Linked DNA regions of Homo sapiens: region 2 is linked to region 1. The links come from fine-mapping of genetic effects on gene expression. A gene starts in region 1. The other region holds a variant in brackets. All regions are shown on one strand. Distances are between the middles of the regions.

The links. PIP is the estimated chance that this variant, and not a neighbour inherited with it, causes the effect.
Region 2: its variant is the best candidate, but not a certain one, in a credible set for the expression of CAV3 in nucleus accumbens (GTEx, PIP 0.57).

The regions. Positions count from the first base shown.
Region 1 is chr3:8,727,637-8,737,611 of GRCh38, reverse strand. It overlaps CAV3 (caveolin 3), which reads right to left and starts at 3,810. Exons shown (of 2, transcript NM_033337.3): 1 at 3,622-3,810. The coding sequence starts at 3,735.
Region 2 is chr3:8,803,584-8,813,558 of GRCh38, reverse strand. LOC107986061 (a long non-coding RNA gene) reads left to right here. Exons shown (of 2, transcript XR_001740592.2): 2 at 1-5,228. Among named protein-coding and RNA genes, the nearest start is that of OXTR, 39 kb to the right of the region's middle. The variant C/T (reference allele first, on the strand shown) is at 5,529.

The DNA of each region.
Region 1 (9,975 bases):
AGCTACAATCTCCATGACCTTCTACACTGCCCTGGGCCCAGTCCCGAGCCTTGGAGACCACAGCTGAAGTCTGTTGGAGTATACAGGGCTCTTCCTCTGTTCTTGGCTGCCTGGGTTTAAAGGCAGGGCCAAAAAGGGGTGCCTCCCCTCTACTGGGGGTCAAATCCATGGATGTAGTATGCCTATCTCCTACTCTTCATCCTTGGCTTTTTTAAATGTGAAACGGCCGTGACTGGTGGCACCAGGGACTTGGGACCAGAGAGGGCAAAGGATTTCCTCAGAGTCACACAGCAAGTTACTGTCAGGTCTTGGACCAGAACTTGAGTCTGTAGCCAGGTCCTATTCCAGCATTCTTTCCGTGTCACTCATCCTAGCCCATGAGAAACCTGCTACCACCTGTGAGGCCACCCTGCCACCTGCCACCTGGGGCACTGCCAGGGCCTCCTGCACCTTCCTCTCAGTCTCTGTCCAGTTTCTCCATCTCTCTCTGTCTCCCTCATTCCCTTTTCCTTCCCATCTCTCTTTTCCTCCATCGATGGCAAAACCCGGGCAGTTGAGAGGCTGAACAGTCTGGCTTCATCCCTCCTAGCCACAGTCCCCTCTCTCCTTCTTTCTTTTCTTTATTCTTTAACAGACTGTAACAGAGACCTGAAATCTACCTAAACCTGTTTGTGATCTATATCTGAGTCTGCTTTATGATCCTTGTTCTGCATTAACTTTTTTCATTTCTCACTCACTAAAAATAAAAGAAAGAAAAAGTCAAACAAATCCCTAAAGCAGAGAATGTCCAAAACATACCAAATAACCACCTCCTCTGGACAAAATTATTTGCGGCATCCTTTCTTAGCCTTTGCTATTTTTGCTAGGGCTCAGGGCCTCCAGGAGAGGACAGCTCTCAGCCCCAGGAGGGCTGCGTAAAGCCGCTGCACCTGTGCCGCCGCCCCCGCCGCTCCCTCTGCGTCATAATCCAGGCCTGCGGCTTGGAGCTGGCTCCCTCCTGGCTCAGAGGGATCCAAGGGCTCCCTCTGTACTTACCAGCCATTGTGGGTGCCCTTTAGAAACCATGTTCTCCCGTGGGATCCTCTTTCCCATCTCCCTGCAGCCCACCTGGGTGTACCAGATGGCTACCTGGGCATGACGCAGGCTCCTGGCTTAGCTCTCTTGCCCTCTAGACTGCAAGCTCTTTGAGACCCTTCTTTGACTCACACTGTCTCATCCTTGCTGGGTGCCAGGGACTGTGATAGACACTTTCAAACCCTTCATCTCATTCAATCCTCATGCTATATTTCTAACGCACAGTGCTGCTTTGAGATTCGTTTACCTGGTGGAGGTAAATTGGGAAATGATATTATTCCCACTTTACAGGGGAAACTGAGTCTCAGAAAACCTAGTTGGTTTGTCCAGTGTTATCATTTTTAGGTAAAATGGACTGGATTTGAAATCAAGTCTATTAAAGTCAAGTCCAGGACTATTCCTGCTAGATGACACTGATGGAAACCATAACTAATAATATTTTACAGGTACAATTTTATTTACATGTATATAGTGCTTTACAGTTTGTGAAATTTGTTTCCTAATTTTCCTCATTTCAGCTTTCACACTGTGCTATACTGTATACTCTATCTCCATCACTAACGATGTATAGAAATATAATATCCAGTATAAGAAGAGCTGTGGTGGAGGAATGCCCTGAGTGAAGCAGGGGGACAGAAGTGGGAGCAACTAATTGCCTGGAGGAGTCAGGGAAGGCTTTCTGGAGGAGGTTGCATTTGAGTTGGGCCTTGAAGGCTGAGTGAGGCATTCACCACCTGGAGAAGAGAGGACAGGCACTTCTGGCAATGGCACAGGAATGTACTCTGGTGGGTGGGCTGGCAGGTGGGAGCCAACCAGGCAGAAGAAGCAGGTTGGGGCCAGATTGTGTTGGGTTTGGACAGCCACGTGGAGAGGCTAGGCTTCTCCAGCATGGGAGGTGCCCCACTGAAAGACCGCAATACAGGCCTGTCTGATCCAGTGGCCAGGAGCTTTGAGCGCTTGAAATGTGGCTAGTGAAACTGAAGAATTCTAGATTTTGTTTAACTTTAATTAAAATGTAAACCCCGATTTCATTATTGAAAAATTTTTGCAGAATGTTTGAAACAGTACAGGCATGCGAATCGATTTTCACATGTACATTTTATGAAATCTAAATGCAGAACAAGCATTTCGGATGAAAATGTGGGGTCTGAACTGAAATATACTGTGGGTATAGGAAGCACACTGGATTTCAAACTTGAAGACTGTACAATAGCTCATTGATAATTGTTTTATATTGCTTACATGTTGAAATAATACTATTTTAGATATATAGGGTTAAGTAAGAAATATCAGGAACATTAATTTCACCTGTTTGCTTTCGCATTTTAAAATGTGGCTGCTAGAAAATTTTAAATTCCTTGTGGTAACAGTATCCCTATTGGACAGCACTGGCCTGAGATTCCAATGCTTTCAGTAGGATCTGAGAGGCCTCAGACACTGGCCTCTTAACAGCCCCTCCAGTGACTCAGATGCTGGTGGCTGGGGACCCTTCTTGGAGGAATTCTGCTTTAGAAAGGTACCTCTGAGCCAGTTGTGGAGTCTTGCACCTGTAATCCCAGCACTTTGGGAGGCAGGAGGATCACTTGAGCCCAAGAGTTTGATACCAGCTTGGTCAACATAATGAAACCCAGTCTCTACTAAAAATACAAAAATTAGCTGGGCATGGTGGCACTCGCCTGTGGTCCCAGCTAATCAGGAGGTGGAGGAGGGAGAATCACTTGAGCCTGGGAGGTTGAGGCTGCAGTGAGGCGTGAGTGTGCGACTGCACTCCAGCCTTGGGGACAGAGAGAGACTGTCTCAAAAAGAAAAAAGAAAGATCCCTCTGGGTACTGGCTGGAAGTTGGATTGAAGGTGTGGGCCTGGAGGCAGCAGGGCCGCTAGTGTCACCAGGAGGCGAGGGAAGAGGCCCAACTTCAGACGCTGAGAGACTCCCTGAGGGCTAGACAACCCCGAGCTTTCTCTTCGAGGGTCCCGGGTGCCGTCTGCCCTGTCCTGGCCACTAGACCTGGGGTGAGGGGGTAGCTAGGGGAGGGCTGGGCATGGCCCTCGGCCTTGGGGACAGATATTGGGCAGTGCTCTGGGGGAGTGAGTGTACCTCGAGGGGCTGCCGGCCCTGCTGGAAGCTGCCCTCTGGGGATTAACCCTGCACCCACTGGAGAGACCGCAGAAATGCCCCTTGGCACAGAAAGGAGCCCAACTTGGCCGCCCGTTCCTGTTCCTCCCAGGGTGAGAGCCAGGAGTGAGTGGCAGGAGCGTCACAGTAGTAAGGAGGGATTTTCTTTGTGACTCGCTCCTCCTGCCCTGATTAGCACTTAGGTCATGGAGATGAGGCTAATTTTTTGCTCTTGATTTTGCTAAAGATCCTTCGGTGATTTAGAAGCCTTTTTTTGGGGGTGGGGTGGGGTTGGGGGGGTGATACAGAGACAACAGAGCAACAAGTCTCTTTTCAGGGAAACTGTGTCTGCAGCAGATACCCTCCCCTGCCAAGCGCCCACGTCTCGCAAACCTGACACTCTCCGCCCGCCGAGGCAGGCCTGCAGAGCCTACCTTGACTATGTCCTCGTTAATGTTCTTGGGGTCTCGGTTCACCAGGTCAATCTCCTTGCAGTGGATATCCTTGACGATCTGGGCCTCGAGATCTGTGTGCTCTTCTGCCATCATCGCAGAGCTGGGGGGATCCACAGGAGGAGATCCGAGCTGTGTGGCCGGCTGGGGCTGAAAATACTTGGGGCAGAGAGACCAATTCAGTGTCCCCAGACTTATGTCCCTGCCAGCTAAATAGGCCCCACCCAGCATGCCGGCTGACAGCTGTCCCACATAACTTCAGCCTGCCTCTCTCTAAAGCCTCCTGTGGCAGGCCTCCAAGCTAAAATTAAGACTGGAGCTCTTCTGGAAGGCCGATCGCTCCTTAAAGGGGGCTGCCTCAGGGCACTGGGCCTCAGGAGAGGGTGCAGAGGGCCTAGCGTTTCCTATGCATCGTGTGGCTGTGGCCAACTCGGCGGTCGCTCCGGGGCCCCTGGAATTTGCCCCACTGCTGTCAGCATTTTGGCTCCTTTGGGGTGCACTGCCCGTGGAGGGAAGTGGGGTTAGTCCCTCCTCTGCCTCTGGCTGGCTGTGTGACCTTTGGCACACTTCACCTCTCTAGGCCACTCTGTCCCCATCTGTAAAATGGAGAGATGATAATAACAATCAGGGCTCTCCTACCCAGGGAATGGCTTCAGGAGCTGGAATGCGATGTAGTGGGGCTTCTCGTTGGATTGCCAGTGCCTGGCCCTGCTGCTTGGTGACCTGGAGCAGGTCCGAGCTTTGTGGGTTTCTGAGGTTTCCACCTGGAGCAGGAGTTGATGGACTGTGGTGTGGGGCCAGGCTGGGGATGAAACAGGGAGAGGAAGCTGCTGTGGGGCTGCCCCTCGTCTGCCGTCTGGAGCCTGCACTGGGATATGCCCGGTGGGGGGAACATGAAGTCCATGTTCGTGCTACCCTTCACCCTGCCCTAGTGACAGCTTCCAGGATTTTCTTGGGTCCCAGACACTCCACATGCATCAGTGGGGTGCACCTCTCTTAGATACCTGCTCGGTTTTTCTGTGCCCTCTTCTAACTCAGCCTTCCCCTGGGCTCCAGCAGCATGAAGGATGGCAACTCTGAATCCTCAGGGGTCAGGGTCTGTGCTTCCATTTACCTGTCTATTCACTCCTTCATTCAGGATTTGCTAATAGCTGGGGATAAACAGACCAACAAGGCTCTGTCCGCCTTGAAGTGCTCCCAGTCAAGGTGGGGAGACTAATTAAAACAATAAGTGATTATAATACTGTGCGGTAAGTGCCACAGATCAGAGATATTTTACAAAGAGCTGGTCTTAGAAGTCCATAGGAGTCAGTAACTTACTCTGAGGACACCGGGGAAGACTTCCTGTGGGAGGTGGCTTTGCAGATAGGTATCGAATGACAAGCAGGAGCTCAGCACCTAGAACACTTCAAGTTACAGGATTGTGGATATTGAGGAGTGGTATAGACAGGAATGTTGAAAAGTGTGGAGTGGCTGGAGCACAGGGTGTCTGGGGTTGAGGCAGGAGATACAGCTCAGCTCAGGCCTGGGTGTGCAGCATCCCAAATGTCATACTAAAGAATGTGGATTTTGTCTAGGGGTGCTGGAAAGCCATTGAAGGCTTCAAAGCAGGACAGGGTCGGTATCAGATTTGTGTGTGAGGAAGCTCCCTGGTGGCCAGGTGGAGGGTGGATTGGAGCTGGGTGAAGTTTGAGGTAGGAGGGGGAAAACCAGAGGTGATTTAGGCTTTATCAATAATTACACCTGGCTAGTAACACAAAGGATGCAAAAGTAATAGTGACTTGAATAAGGTAGGAACTTTTTTTCTCACTTAACACAAGTAGTTCAGAAATATTATAGTGGCTCCATGATGTCTTCAGACATCTGGACTCCCATCCTTCTGTTCTGCTAGCCCGAAAGCCACCTCATAGGCACAAGATGTCTACTGCTCCTCCAATCATCATCTCTGAGTCTGGATAAGAAGAAAGAGGAAGGGGCAGGGACAAGAAACGACATCTGCGAACTGAGTCGGCTCTGTTATAAAGCTTTGTTAGAAGTCCAACCCAACTACTTCTGTTTATATCTCATTGGTCACTCCTGTCTTGGCAAACGATGATGGAACTGTAGGTTTTTTAGCTTGAGCACATTTTCGGCACCCCCACAGTGTTACTAGGGATAAATGGTGGGCAACCAGAAAACTGTCCCTAAGTCGCTTAGGATTAAGAGGTAACTTTTTTTGTTGCTTTTCCATTCCCTTGCCTGGGTCCCCAGGTCCCCCTGGTCCCAGGTACATGAATATTCTGCAAAGAGATTGTAACAAAAAAAAAGAACATTGCTGCTTGTATTCACAAGGGACGTGGCAGGGATCTAAGCCTGAGCTTAAGCTTTGTGCACCGTAGAACCAGATATGTCTGGTGAAAGGTGGGCCAGCTAATGGCAGTCTTGTCGCCAGGGATGGAAGAGCCACCTAGAAGAACTCATCATCCTAAAGGGGAAGTAATAATAACGACATAGTAATAATGATTATGGAAGGCCATCTTTTCCAAAGATGATGAGATTGACACTCCTTCCACCAAGAGGGAGGGTCTGTGTTCCCTCCCTGGCTGGCTTCCTGGCTCTCTCCTCTCAGGATTCTTGCTCTTGGACCTCAGTCACCACGCTGGGAGGAAGTCCACACCAGCCTATGTGGGAAAACCACATAGAGAGGAGCTGAGGCTCCAGCTGTCAACCAACATCAGCATCAGGCATGAGGGTGAACAAAGTTTTGGATGTTCCCAGTCGCCAGTCTTCAAGTCATCCCCAACCTTCCTGTCTTCCAGCTGAAGCCTCAGACACCATGAAACAGAGAAACTGTCTTCTCTGTGTCCTGTTTGAATATCTAAACCACACAGTTCATGATCATAATCATTTTTTTATGTCACTGGAATTTGGGGGAGCTTGTTTCACAACCATAGTCACTGGATCAATGAGCGCTAATGGCAATAGCAACTACTGTTTGTTGAGAATCATTATGTGCTTGGCTTCCTTCCTAGGCATCCTTGGTGTGTGTAAGGAGGCTCATTTGTTATCTGAAAGGGTCAGTGCCCCTAGCTGGTGATCGGTGCTGAGGGCCAAGGGAGTGGAGCAACTAACACACATTGTGGATTTCACAGGAAGGAAGTGTACTTCAGCTGGGCCAGAAGGATGAGTGGACTCAGAGAGGCAGAGAGGAAAGGGCCAGATGCCAGAGGCAGAGAAAGGGTCATCTCTCACTTTCTTATGACAATTGTATTTCTAAAAACCTCACTGGTGAAAAGAGCACTGAAGCCGGGAACCATTAGTTGTTTCTTGGCCCTATCGTGAAGCAACTCTGAGCCCCCTCTCTGAGGCCTGGGGTCCTTGTCAAGTTTGGATGGTAAAACCTGCCTGTATTCCCCACGCATGAGTCTGTGCCCCCGCACTCAGTGGGAAAACCTAATGGGGCACCAGAGGGGCTGTGTACTCACAGAAAAAATGTTACGAAGAGAACGTACTGACAGATGAAACTTTCAAGTCAACCCTGGGGTGATGCAGCTAACAAGAGAAAGCAATTAAGGAGAGAGAGTGGCTTTCCGGAGCCCATTTTGTATCTGGGGTTTTATAGAGGACACAGCGTTCTTATTTCAAAGGATTTTTGTCGTTGTTGTTGTTATTTGGCTTGCCAGGGAAAAGAGAGAGAAAAGAATTTTGAAAATGGGATGTGCAGGAAGACACATTTGTGGAGGGTCCAAAGGGGAAGTAATGGGAAAGGGAAAGATTTACATGAGCTGAGTCACTAAGAAAGTAATGGTACCATGGACTGAAAACTCAGTGAGCTAACAAGTCTAGGGCTACTGTTAACAAGCAAGATTGATCACTCATGCAAATGTTTCCAAGGCTAGTAACTCTAGAATGATCAGCAGGAAAGGAAGCTTTTTTTTGTTTTTCCTACAAGTTTTAGATCTGGATTGAGAGCTTCTGTTTTCTTCATGACTTGGCTTTTGGGGTCTGCATTTAGAAAACAAATCACAGTATGCTCGAGCTCGAAGAGACCCAGCTTTTCCATTTTACAGATGTAGAAACCGAGGGCCCAAAAATCTCAGTTGGTGGACTGGAGAGCTTGGGATTTGGAGACAGAACTGCTATATGTCCATGAGCAGGCCACTCCCTCCCAAACTTTGGTTTACTCACCTATATAATGAGCATAACGGACCATCTTTTCCTACCATGAGGGATCTGGGAGATTTTTGGAATGGGTTCCAAAATAGACAGAGTGATCTTAGGATGCATCAATAGAGATGAACACTCTAGAATAATGGAGGTGACTGTCCTACTCAACTGTGCACTGGTCAGACTACGCTTGGAGGTCTAGTGGGGCTCCATGCTTGAAGAGGGGTGTTGGGAAACTAGATCATCTCTATAGAGGAAGGAAGCTCCTTTAAGAAAGAGCTTGAAACATGTCTTGTGAGAAACAGACAATTTTGGGTTCTAAAGAGAAGACTCAGAGAGAGGGACGGAAGAACTTTCCTCAAATCTCTGAAGGCATAAGGGATGAGATTTATTCTGGGAGGTCCCAAGGACTGGTGAGTAAGTGGCAGACTTTCGCTTGACTCAACCCAGGGCCTGGGTCATCGTTGGCCCCACTGATAATGATAGCTGATATAGTTCTCGGTAAGGGTACCAGGAAGGACTGCCTCAAAGTTTCCCAGAGATATAATAGACTGCTTCCGAAAGGGGCTGGCTTCCTGGGTCCAGAAACATTAAGGTAGAAGAGTGAAAGGGAACCAAGAGCTAAAAAAGGAGAAGAACAGGGCAAACTGTAGGACCATATAGTAAATCTTTCAGGCAGGACTGGCTATATAAGTTGAGGGGTCCAGAGAAAAACAAAAATTCAGCTCTTGTTTAAAAATGATTAAAAATTTCAACATGGTGAAATCAAGCTGTGGCATCTCCCAAGCATGGGGCCCTATGGGTTGCACTGCCCTGGTTTCAGATTTCGTGGGCCATGTGGTCTCTGTCGCGACTACTCACCTCTGCCCTTGTAGCTCAAAAGCTGCTGTAGAAAATGCGTAAATGAAGGGGCTATGGTTGTGTCTCAGTAAAACTTTATTTACAAAAATAAGTGGCAGCCAGATTGTAAAAACACGATTTTGGCTCATGGGCTGTATGCAGTTTGCAGACCCTGTGTAGAGTCCTGGGTCATCAGAGCCGTCTTGGGCTGGTGCTGTCCCGAGCCATGTCTGGACGGCCTCGGTTTCACGTTCGAGCCAGTACAGACTCGCTCTCCTTACCTACTTCTCCCACCTGGGGGAAAATAGCTCTGAGTTGAGTCCCATATCTAACTGGGATTCCTTCCACCCGACTTGATTATCCATCAGACAATGAGAATGAGTAAGTGAACCCCAAGTTGCCATACTCCCCTCCAAGAGCAGATGCCAGGACAGGGGAGACTGGCCCTTGCCATACTCAGGTAGAACCTGCTTTGCTTCCCAGGTGAAAGAAAAGAGATGGAAAATTTTCCAGCCTTCAGGACCAACAGTGAAAACTCCCTGTTCAGAGACCATGCTGGAGCAGGCTCTGGGGAAGGGGCGTGTATTCTTGTGGGTGGGAACAGCGTTTGCTGTTTACTTTCAGCAAGGCCCAGGGTGGGCCTCAGTCTCTGAGAATATCAGGTGCTTTGGCATTCAGAACGTCTTCATGAATTCACAGAGTCCTGACACTTGGGCGGGGCTCTCTGGGCTGGGGTTTCTGCATGTCTCTTTGAGCTCTGTGATGTATACCCCAGACCAAATGGATGTTCCAGAGACTGGGTGCCCTGAAGATGAGCCCTTGGTTCTGTCTGCAACCTCATTCTGCAGAATTCTTGAGGGGTGAGGATGAGAGATAAGTCATCATTTCTCCTTGTCTCTGTCTACTTAGCCTCCCAGAGGATCTTGGTTTGAGTCAAAAAGAGCTGGCTTCAATTTCATCTGGCCTAAGCCTCAGATGTGAGCCACACACGCTGCCCTAGAGATTCAGAGCACGCCCCACCTCATACACCACACTGCCTTTTTTGAAAACAGGTTGAACTCAACTCTTCTGCATTGAGGGAAGCTTTCCAGGGGCTATATTTTCATTCAACACATAGTGACTTCATGCTGGTGTTTTTCCTAGGCTCAGTGGATGGGAAACAAAGATGAATAATGCATGATTTCAACAAACGCTTACTGGGTGTGCAGCACATAGCAGATGCTGAGGATAAAACAGTGAAGAAGACTTGAACCCTGACCTGGTAGATTGCACAGTTCTGCTGGGGAGGCAGACAAGAAAAAACAGTGATGAACAGAGGGCCTGGCACGCTGCCTGCTGGGGTAGGCAGGT
Region 2 (9,975 bases), 76 kb before region 1:
TGAGATCCAGAGGGTGGAAGTTCTTTCTTTCAGAGGAGCTGGTACTGATTATGTGACAGCCTTGAGTCCCCCCATCAGAGCCCACTGGTGTCTTCTTCAGGGTCTGGTCTCTGGTACTGAGATGATGATCACAATTATTAACAATGACATACTTGCTTTCAGTTTTTTTTTTTTTTTTTTTTTTTTTTGATGGAGTCTCGCTCTGTCGCCCAGGCTGGAGTGCAGTGGCCCGAACTCAGCTCACTGCAAGCTCCGCCTCCCAGGTTCACGCCATTCTCCTGCCTCAACCTCCTGAGTAGCTGGGACTACAGGAGCCCGCCACCACGCCTGGCTAATTTTTTGTATTTTTTAGTAGAGACAGGGTTTCACCATGTTAGCCAGGATGGTCGCGATCTCCTGACTTCGTGATCTGCCCGCCTCGGCCTCCCAAAGTGCTGGGATCACAGGCGTGAGCCACCTCACCAGGCCAACAATAACATACTTTCTTACCATCTTAGGAGGGTCTTTATACCTTCATATTTGCTCAATCTCCAAACCCATCTGATAAGTATGAAAAATGCTGTTTATAGCTGAAGAATCAGGCTCAGGATCAGGGATTTGTCTAAGACCCAGGCCCAGAACACAGGTCCTCTTGACTCTAAATCCCGCGATCCTCCCCATCCCTGTGCAGCTCTACCACAGGGTTGCAGGGCTCCGGGTTGCAAGGCCCAGTGCTGATGACACCTGGATGGCTTGCTGGAGACTCCAGGACCATGCTACAGGCTGTTGAGAACTGCTGGGCACCTGCCAGGTGGCTCTATCAGAAAGTGGGGAAGCCCCACAGAAAGGCAGGGAGGGGCCACAAACACAGACGACTTCCCACCTTTGTTTTGGACCAACTCTGGGCTATCTGACAGAGCAGAATGCTTTGCTGCAGCTGAGAACATGTTTCTCGGCCTTAAGAAATAAGCTCTTAAGCTTTCAGCTTTTAAAAATGTAAAGCAAGTAATGCATTCAACAGACATCACCCCATCACTGAGGTCTTCCCTGTCATCCGTCCCTAAGTCTCAAACCATCCATCTTTGAGCCTCCGTGGAGCCTGACCATTGCTTGCCCAAATCCGGAGCCTCAGCCTGGCACATACATAAACCCTTCCCTTACCCCTACCCAAAGATGAAGGCTCACTCTTCTTGTACCTTGCCCATTCTTCACCACAGACCTGATCTGTCCCTACCAAATCTTGAGCCTCATCCCAGCCTTGACACTAACTGCATCCCTTACCCAAATACTCACCTTCAGTCCATATCAGACCCCATCTCATCCCTCACCCCATACCCAAATCTACCACCATGCCTCACACCAACAATCCGTCCCTTACCCAAACCCCAAGACCTAACTGTACCCCCATTACACCTTAATTTCATTCTTGAGCCTCGGTGCTAGGGGTGAAGGGGGTTATTGCACACATCACCAGGAAATTTCAGAAATGCCCAAAGGTTAATCATTTCTTTTTGAGGCTCTCAAAATAAGTGTGGCTATCACTTTGTCCAAGAGTCAAAGTGGCTGCATTAAAACAACACTGCCCAAAACTGAGGCCAAGGTGTGAGAAGACACTGTGCAATCTCCCTCTGCAGTCCTGTTGTTCTCAGATCAGAAGGAGAGAGTTGTTTTGCGTTCAGTAAATTCAGTCACCATGTGAGTACTACGAATGGAGCCTGAGACAAGTGCAGTCATTATTTTGTGTAATGACATGGTGTTGGAGCCACCGCTGAGAAGGAAAATGCAGGCACAAACCATCCATCTTTTCAAGCAAATGAGAAAGGTTCATTTTTCAGATCTGCTACTGTTCCTTAGGAACTTGGTATTTTCTATCCTTCCAATTGCTCATTGGATTGTCTTCCCTATGCCTTTCTAAATGATTGACTTTCCAAAGTGCTTTGGCTCCCTGAAAAATGAAAGGGGTCTGGAAATATCAGGTGTGTTATAATTACCTCTGGCAGCACCATTGGGTAGGCCAGGCGACTCTCATCTCAACGTGTCTGCATTAACTCTAGCCATCTTTCTTTGGAAAAATGTCAGCATGATTAGCAATGGCTCCCACAATGAATTGGAGGGAAAAAAATCACCAGTCATTATATTTTTTTAAATGAATTTTTCTTTTTTTGTATCAGCCCCAAGTTAGAATTTTAATTTGCAGAAACTCCCAAGAAATTTCAGTCAGTGTTGTAGTTAGACCAAAGCTTGATTTAGGTTGGCACATTAAAACTCACTCCTGCTTTTAAAGTGCTGTACACTTTCCAGAATAATGATGCTATCCATCCCTCACAATATCCCTGTATGGAAGGCACTGTTACCTGCTTTTCACAGATGAGGGAATGGAGGCTCAGGGGCTTCAGTGACTTGTCCAGATAGGGGAGGGTTTCTGGTGCCCCATCTCCTGAGCACGGACCTGCACTCTTGCCAGCATGGTGCTGACTGCCCTGGGGAGGGCAGCTAAAGCCCACGAAGGCCTGGGTGACATGTCAGGTATGACTGCCCTGGAAGAGGCAGTGTAGATATCAGCCAGGACATGATGACAAACTTAGAAATTCAGTTCACTTTGCTATTACCAAATATCTAGAGGCTTCATGTGATGCCAACTGAATATCCAGATTTTTGACCCACTTGTTTTTTGTCTGGGTCATTGTTAATATGTGATCTTTTGTAACAGAAAGAGCCCCATGCTCGATCTCCATGATCTTGTTTAATTCTTGCAATAACACTTTGAGAGATAGATACAATTATCCTCATTTTACTAATAAGAAGTTAAATAACTTGCCTGAGATTGCACAACTTCGGGGCAGAGTCAAGATTTGAACCAAGATCTGGATTACTCTTACCCACTACAGTAAACCTATTCTCTGTAGGTCAGAAGAAAATGGAATTCTAGTTTGAGCTTTTTCTTTTTAGTTCTGTGTCCTCAGATGAGTTAACAAATTCATTGAATATTTATTGAGTATATGTTGTTTTTTTTTTTGTTTTGTTTTATTTTTGTTTTTTGTTTTGAAACAGGGTCTTACTCTGTTGCTCAGCTTGGAGTGCAATGGCGTGATCTCAGTTCACAGCAGTCTCCACCTCCTGGGTTCAAGCGATCTCATGTCTCAGCCTCCTGAGGGCTGGGACTAGAGGTGCAAGCCACCATTCCTGGCTAATTTTTGTATTTTTTGGTAGAGACAGGTTTCACTATGTTGGCCAGGCTGGTCTTGAACTCCTGACCTCAAATGAGTCCACCTCGGCCTCCCAAAGTACTGGGACTACAGGTGTGAGCCACCATGTCTGGCTGAGAATACATTTTTAAACAACTGATGAGCAAGCAACTCAGTTGCAATGACTGACAAACAAGTAAATTCCTTCATCTCATGGATGAGAATCCATCCATAAACAAGTGAGTTGGGCAAGTTTTTCTCAAAGGTTCTTTCTAGAGCTCATATAGTATGAGTCTGTGATGTTGACAGTTTAGATTTGCAACAGAGTCGTGCCCAAATCTCTCAGATGTGCATCTCGGTTTTCACAATGTCAAAGGTGATCTCTCCCACACTTCAGAGAGATTCCCTGAATTCAGCACCTGTGAGAAGTTATTTATCTCCTCTATGTACTATTTTTATACAGCTACCTGATTTAATCCCTAACACCAAAAACTCGAGCTGTGTTATTATCATCTTAAAAATGAGAAAATGGAGACTTGGTGATTATAGCCACTTGCACAATGTCATAGAACTAATACAAGACAAAGCTGGGTCTTGACGTTAGAAGAATCAACACAACAGCTGCTGCAACCTAGCATGCACTGTGGGAGTAGCTCAGGCCCCTGGAGAAGCTGGCTTAGCCTGAGAATGCATCAAGCTCATTCACCCAAGCTTCTAGAAGCACCATTCAGAGACGTTTGGTGGGGTCACAGGTCACCTGCCTCCCCACAGACCATCTGACATTTGTCACACTAGATCTTTTTTATTCTCCTTGCGACCTTGTCTGTGAGTCAGCCCTTGTCATATGGTAAGACAGACTAGCAAGAAATGGAGCTGTCCAGGTGATCTTTTAGAACCTCTGAGATTCCTGCTGCATGACACAAGGATACTCAGTCTCCCTGAAGCCCACCTGTCTCGGGCTAAGAAATGAATGCAGCCTTCAGGAAACAAATGTCCCCACTACTTGAATGATGTCACTTGTATTTCCTGAAGTGTGACAGCCTCTCGCTCCTGACAGGTGGTCATTATGCCTCATCCTGGGCTACATCACTGTCCTTGTAAAGAAATGAGGTTGAAGCAAGTTTCTTCATTTCCACAGCTAAAGAGCTTCTGGATAATATCTCTGCCATGACTAAAACCATGCAGGGGAACAAAATAAGAGTTGATTTATCAAACATTCAGTAACTGAAAAAACAGAGTTGGAGAATCTATCAAATGACTACGTGGTAACCAATTCTAGCTAGTAGTTTAAGGTGGCTTTGTTTTCTGTTTGTAGCTAGAGGCCCAGAGGGAGGACCCTGAGCTCAGGAAGTGAGGATGCTGGTAACATAGCATCACACAGAAAAGAATGGAAAGGCCAGGCATTATTATTACGGCTGACCCCTTTCATTCTTTCTTTTACTTTCCAACTTCTTTCTGCCTGACTTCCCCAGGAAAGTCTTCCCATTTTCCTTCACTGTGAATCAAGAAGCAATTGTAATCATGGTCAGCACATACTATAATCATCAGGGTACAGACACTTATCAAGACAAGGGACGTGGCCATTTCACTTTGAAATCAAAGTGAAATCAGGTAATTCCTGAAAGTTCCCAGACTTTCCTCTTAGAAATATTGCCAAAAAAACTTCCTACTCATCCTGCTTTAATTACACACAACACAGTTCTTCATCAAGTGTCAATATTCATAAGTAGAAAATGAAGTCTTTTTCAACATTATTATGTTTCCAATGGATTTAGTTTCTACTGTGGTAAGAGCATTACTTTGCAAACATATTTGAACAAAATCCTATAGTATTTTGATGACCTTCTTCCTTCTAGCTTTTGTGGGCTAGCCTGGGCATCTGATGGACATTTAGGACATTACTTCCTGTGGACACTGGGTTCTGCATTCAACCAGCCAATTTACAAATGATTCTTTGGAATATAGCTTATCTGCTGTTGTGTGTAGAAAAATAAAATTGTCATCTCAGTTTCTCGATGTGGAAATTAAGAAATAAAATCTGGAGTGTTGGAGCTCTTGTACCAATGCAGTGGCAGCTATTCCTTTTCCCTTCTTTCTCTGAACACCAACAGGGAGAAGCCACCTGCCCATCTTTGCTGGTCTTCTCGGCCAGTTCTTGTGTCTTCACTGAGAAGGAGCTGTGACTGGAGGCAGAGGCCAGGCCCATTCACTGTTTTTAAATGGAAATATAACTTACATACAGCAAATCATATACAACTGAAATGTACAGCTCAATGAAATTTTGCAAATTTATACAGCTATGTAACACAATCTACATCAAAATGTAGAATAACACAGCATGGCAGCAGGTTTCCTCCTCAATCC[C/T]GTGCCAGTCAATACCCTCCGCCCCAGTGGTAGCCCGCTATTCTGACTTCTTTTAACATAGATTAGTTTTTGGTCCACTTACTTAGAAAACTTTCTTAGGTTGAGGTATAATTGAGAAACAGTAAATTGTACAGATCTTAACTGTTAACTTTAATGAGTTGTGACAACATATACCTGTGTAACCAGTGCCCAGAACAAAATGTAGAACATCTCCATCACCATTGGCAATTCCCAATGCTCCTTCCAATAAATCCTCATCCCTTTTTGTTTTGACAGGGTCTCACTCTGTCACCCAGGCTGGAGTGCAGTGGCATGATCTTGGCTCACTGCAACCTCCACTTCCTGGGTTCAAGTGATTCTTGTGCCTTAGCCTCCTGAGTAGCTGGGATTATAGGCACCCACCACCACACCTGGGTCTTTTTTTTTTTTTTTTTTTGTATTTTTTGTTTTCTTCGTAGAGATGGGGTTTCACTATGTTGGCCAGGCTGGTCTCGAACTCCTGACCTCAAATGATCCACCCACCTCGGGCCTCCCAAAGTGCTGGGATTACAGGCGTGAGCTCTTCCTTTCCTTAGCAACTACTTCCTGATTTCAAACACTGTATAGTAGTTGGGCTTGTTCTCCGATTTCACATAAATAGAATCATCCAGCATGTGCTCTTTAGGGTCTGGCTTCATTCACTTGACATATAGACATATACGTATTTTTAGCTTCACCTACAGTGTTGCATGTATCAGTAGTTAATTCTTTTTTCCCACTAAGGAAAGTTTTTTTGGCTCCATTTCTTAGATTCAGAAGCTAACACCACAATAACAAAAATGTCAAATACATATAATTTGACCCCAATTGTTTAAAAAAAGCTCAAATATACACTTATACCACTGAGACAGGAAAAGATAAATACTGTGTACTAAAAAGTGCTCCTGGTAAACTCTAGACAGTGAGAGATTATGGATGATTGCTCTTCTTCTTTTTATTTTCTGAGTATTTCAGTTTCTACATTAGCATTTTTTTGCATTTTTAATTGTGGTAAAATACACATTTCAAGGATGTAATGTATAGTGCCTATTTCCGGACTTGCTAGTCTTTTCTATTGATTTATTTACCTATCCTTACACCAACATCACCCTATCTTGATTATTGAAGTTTTATAATGAGTCTTAAAATCAGGTAGTCAAAAGGCTTCCAAATTTGTTCTTCATTTTCAAAATTGTTTTGGCTATTTTAGATGACTTGCATGTCCACATACATTTTAGAACTAGTTTATCTATTTCTTCAAAAGAGATTGCTTATATGTGATATGGATTATGTTAAATCTATACATTAATTTAGGGAGGATGGAAATCTTAAACAATATTGAGTTTCCAATTTACGGACGTGCTATATCTCTCCACTTAGGAATATTTTAATTTTGCAAAGCAATATTTTATAATTTTCAGTTTATAGATCTCACATACCTTTCATTAGATTTATTCCTGGGTATTTTATTTTGGCTAGTGTTTTGATGCTATTGTCAGTGGTATTTGTTTTGTAATATAATTTTCCAATTCTTACTAGAATATTGAAATGTAATTTATTTTTGTACATTGATGTTACATCCTGAAACCTTGCTAAATTCACTTATTCTAGTAATTGTTTAATAGACTCTATATGATTTCTAAAACAGCTTGATTGAGACATAATTGACATACCATTTAATTCACCCATTTAAAGTGTGTTCTTATTATATTCCCAGAGCTGTGTGACTATCTCCACAATCCAGTTTTAGAACATTCTCATCACCCCCACAAGAAACCCTGTGTGATGAGGAGCAGTTAGGTCTCATCCTCCTCTCATCTCCACCTCACAGCCCTAGACAATCACCAATCTACTCTTTGTCTCTATGGATTTCTCTCTTCTGAACATTTCATATAAGAGCAATGATACAACATGTAGTCTTTTGGGGCATAATGTTTTCAAGGTTCCTACATGTTGTAGCATGTATCATTCATTTTTATGGCAGAATAACATTCCGTTGTATAGATGGAACAGATTTTATTTATGTATACATCAGTTGATGAGGATTTGGGTTGTTTCCACATTTTGGGTATTATGAATACTGTTGAATGAACATGCGTGTGCAAGTTTTTCTGTGGACATGTTTTTGCTTGCCTCATTTTTATCCTTTGAGGAACTGCCAGACTATTTTTCAAAGCAGCCATACTGTTTTGCATTCTCATTAGCAGTGTATGAGGTTCCAAATTTCTCCACATTCTTGCCAACACTTGTTATTATCTGTCTTTTTTTACTATATTATCTGTCTTTTTTTACTTTTTTTACTATATTATCTGTCTTTTTTTTACTACTTTTTTACCAGTAGAACCACCAGTTCTACTGGTGGGTGTGAAGAGGCTTTCACTGTGCTTTTGAATTACATTTCCTTGGTAGGTAATGACATTGAGAATCCTCTCATGTACTTTTTGGTCATTTGTATATTTTTTGTAGAAATGTCTACTCATATGTTTTGCTCATTTTTAAACTAGGTTATTTGCCTACTTATTATTGAGTTGTAAAAATTTTATTTTTTAAGAAGTATTCTGAAAGTTTCTTATCAGATATATGACTTGCAAATATAGTCTGTGGGTTGCCTTTTTACTTTCTTGATGACGCTCTTTGAAGCACAAAACTTTTAAATTTTGATGAAGTTCAATTTATCTATTTTTCTTGTTTGTGCTTTTGGTGTCATGCCTCAGAACCAGAGTTTTATACATATACAATCTTGTTGTCTATGAATAAGGCAGTTTTACTTATTTTCCCAATACTTATACCTCTTATTTATTTTTCTTGCTCACTTTCACTGGCTAGGACCTCTACTACAATGTAGAATAAAATCAATCAGAGCATATTCTTGCCTTATTACCAATCTTAGGGGAAAATACTTCAATATTTTATTATTAAGTCTGATGCTAGCTGTGTGTCCTCTATCATATTGAGGAAGTTCCCTTCTAGTCTGGCTTGCTGAATTTTCTTTTCTTTTCTTTTTAAATAGACTTTATCTTTTTAAAGATCAGTTTTAGTTTCACAGCAAAATTAAGAGAAATTTACACAATTTCCCATATGTTCTTGCCTTGACACATTCATAGTCGCCCGCATTTTCAACATCCCCCACCAGAGTGGTGCATTTGCTACAACTGATGACTCTATATTGACACATCATGATCATATCCAAAGACTATAGTTGGCATTAGGAATCACTCTTGGAGTTGTACATTTTATGGATTTGTATAAATGAATAATAACATGTGTCCACTATTACAGTATCATTGAGGGTAGTTTTTCTGCCCTAAATCGTCTATGATCTACCTGTTTGTCCCTTCCTCCCTCTAACCTCTGGCAACTACTGATCTTTTTACTGTCTCCATAGTCTTGACGTTTCCAGAATGTCATATTCGAATCTTACAGAATGTAGCTTGGAGCTTCATTCATGTGGTAATATGCATCTACGTTTCCTATATGTTTTTTTTATTCCTTTTTAGTGCTAAATAATATTTCACTATCTGGATATATCACATTTTATTTACCTATTCACTTACTGAAGAATATCTTGGTTGCTTTCAAGTTTTTGCAGTAATGAATAAGGTGCTATAAACACCTATGTGCAGGTTTTTGTGAGGACATCTTTTCAACTTCTTAAAGTAAATACTATGGAGCATGATTGCTGGATCATATGGTTAGAGTATGTTTAGTTTTGTAAGAAACTGCCAAACTGTCTTACAAAGTAGTTGTACCATTTTGCTTTCCCACCAGCAATGGATGAGACTTTCTTTTGCTCCACATCCTCACCAGCATTTGGTGTTTTCAGTGTTTTGGATTTTGGCCATTCTAATAGGTGTGTAATGACATGTCATTATTTTAATTTGCATTATTTTGATTTGCATTTAATTTGCATCGATGATATATGATGTTGAGCATCTTTTCAAATGCTTATTTGCCATCTGTATATCTTCTTTGGTGAAGTGTCTGCTAAGATCTTTGGCCCATTTTTTAATTGAGTTGTTTGTTTTTTTATTGTTCACTTTTAAGAGTTCTTTGTGTATTCTGGACAACAGTCCTTTATCAGTTATGTCTTTTGCAAATATTTTCTCTCAGTCTGTGGATTGCCTTTTTGTTCTCTTGATAGTGTCTTTTGCAGAGCAGAAATATTAAATTTTAATAAAGTCTAGGTTATCAATTATTTCTTTCATGGATTATACTTTTGGTGTCATATATAAAAAGTCATTGCCAAACCCAGGATCAACTAGATTATCTCCTATGTTATCTTCTGGGGTTTTATAGTTTTGCATTTACATATTTGGAGTTAATTTTTGTGAAGGATATAAGGTCTGCATTTAGATTCTTTTTTTTTTTTTTTTTTTTTTGCTTGTGGATGTCCAGTTGTTCCAGCACCATTTGTTGAACAACTATCTTT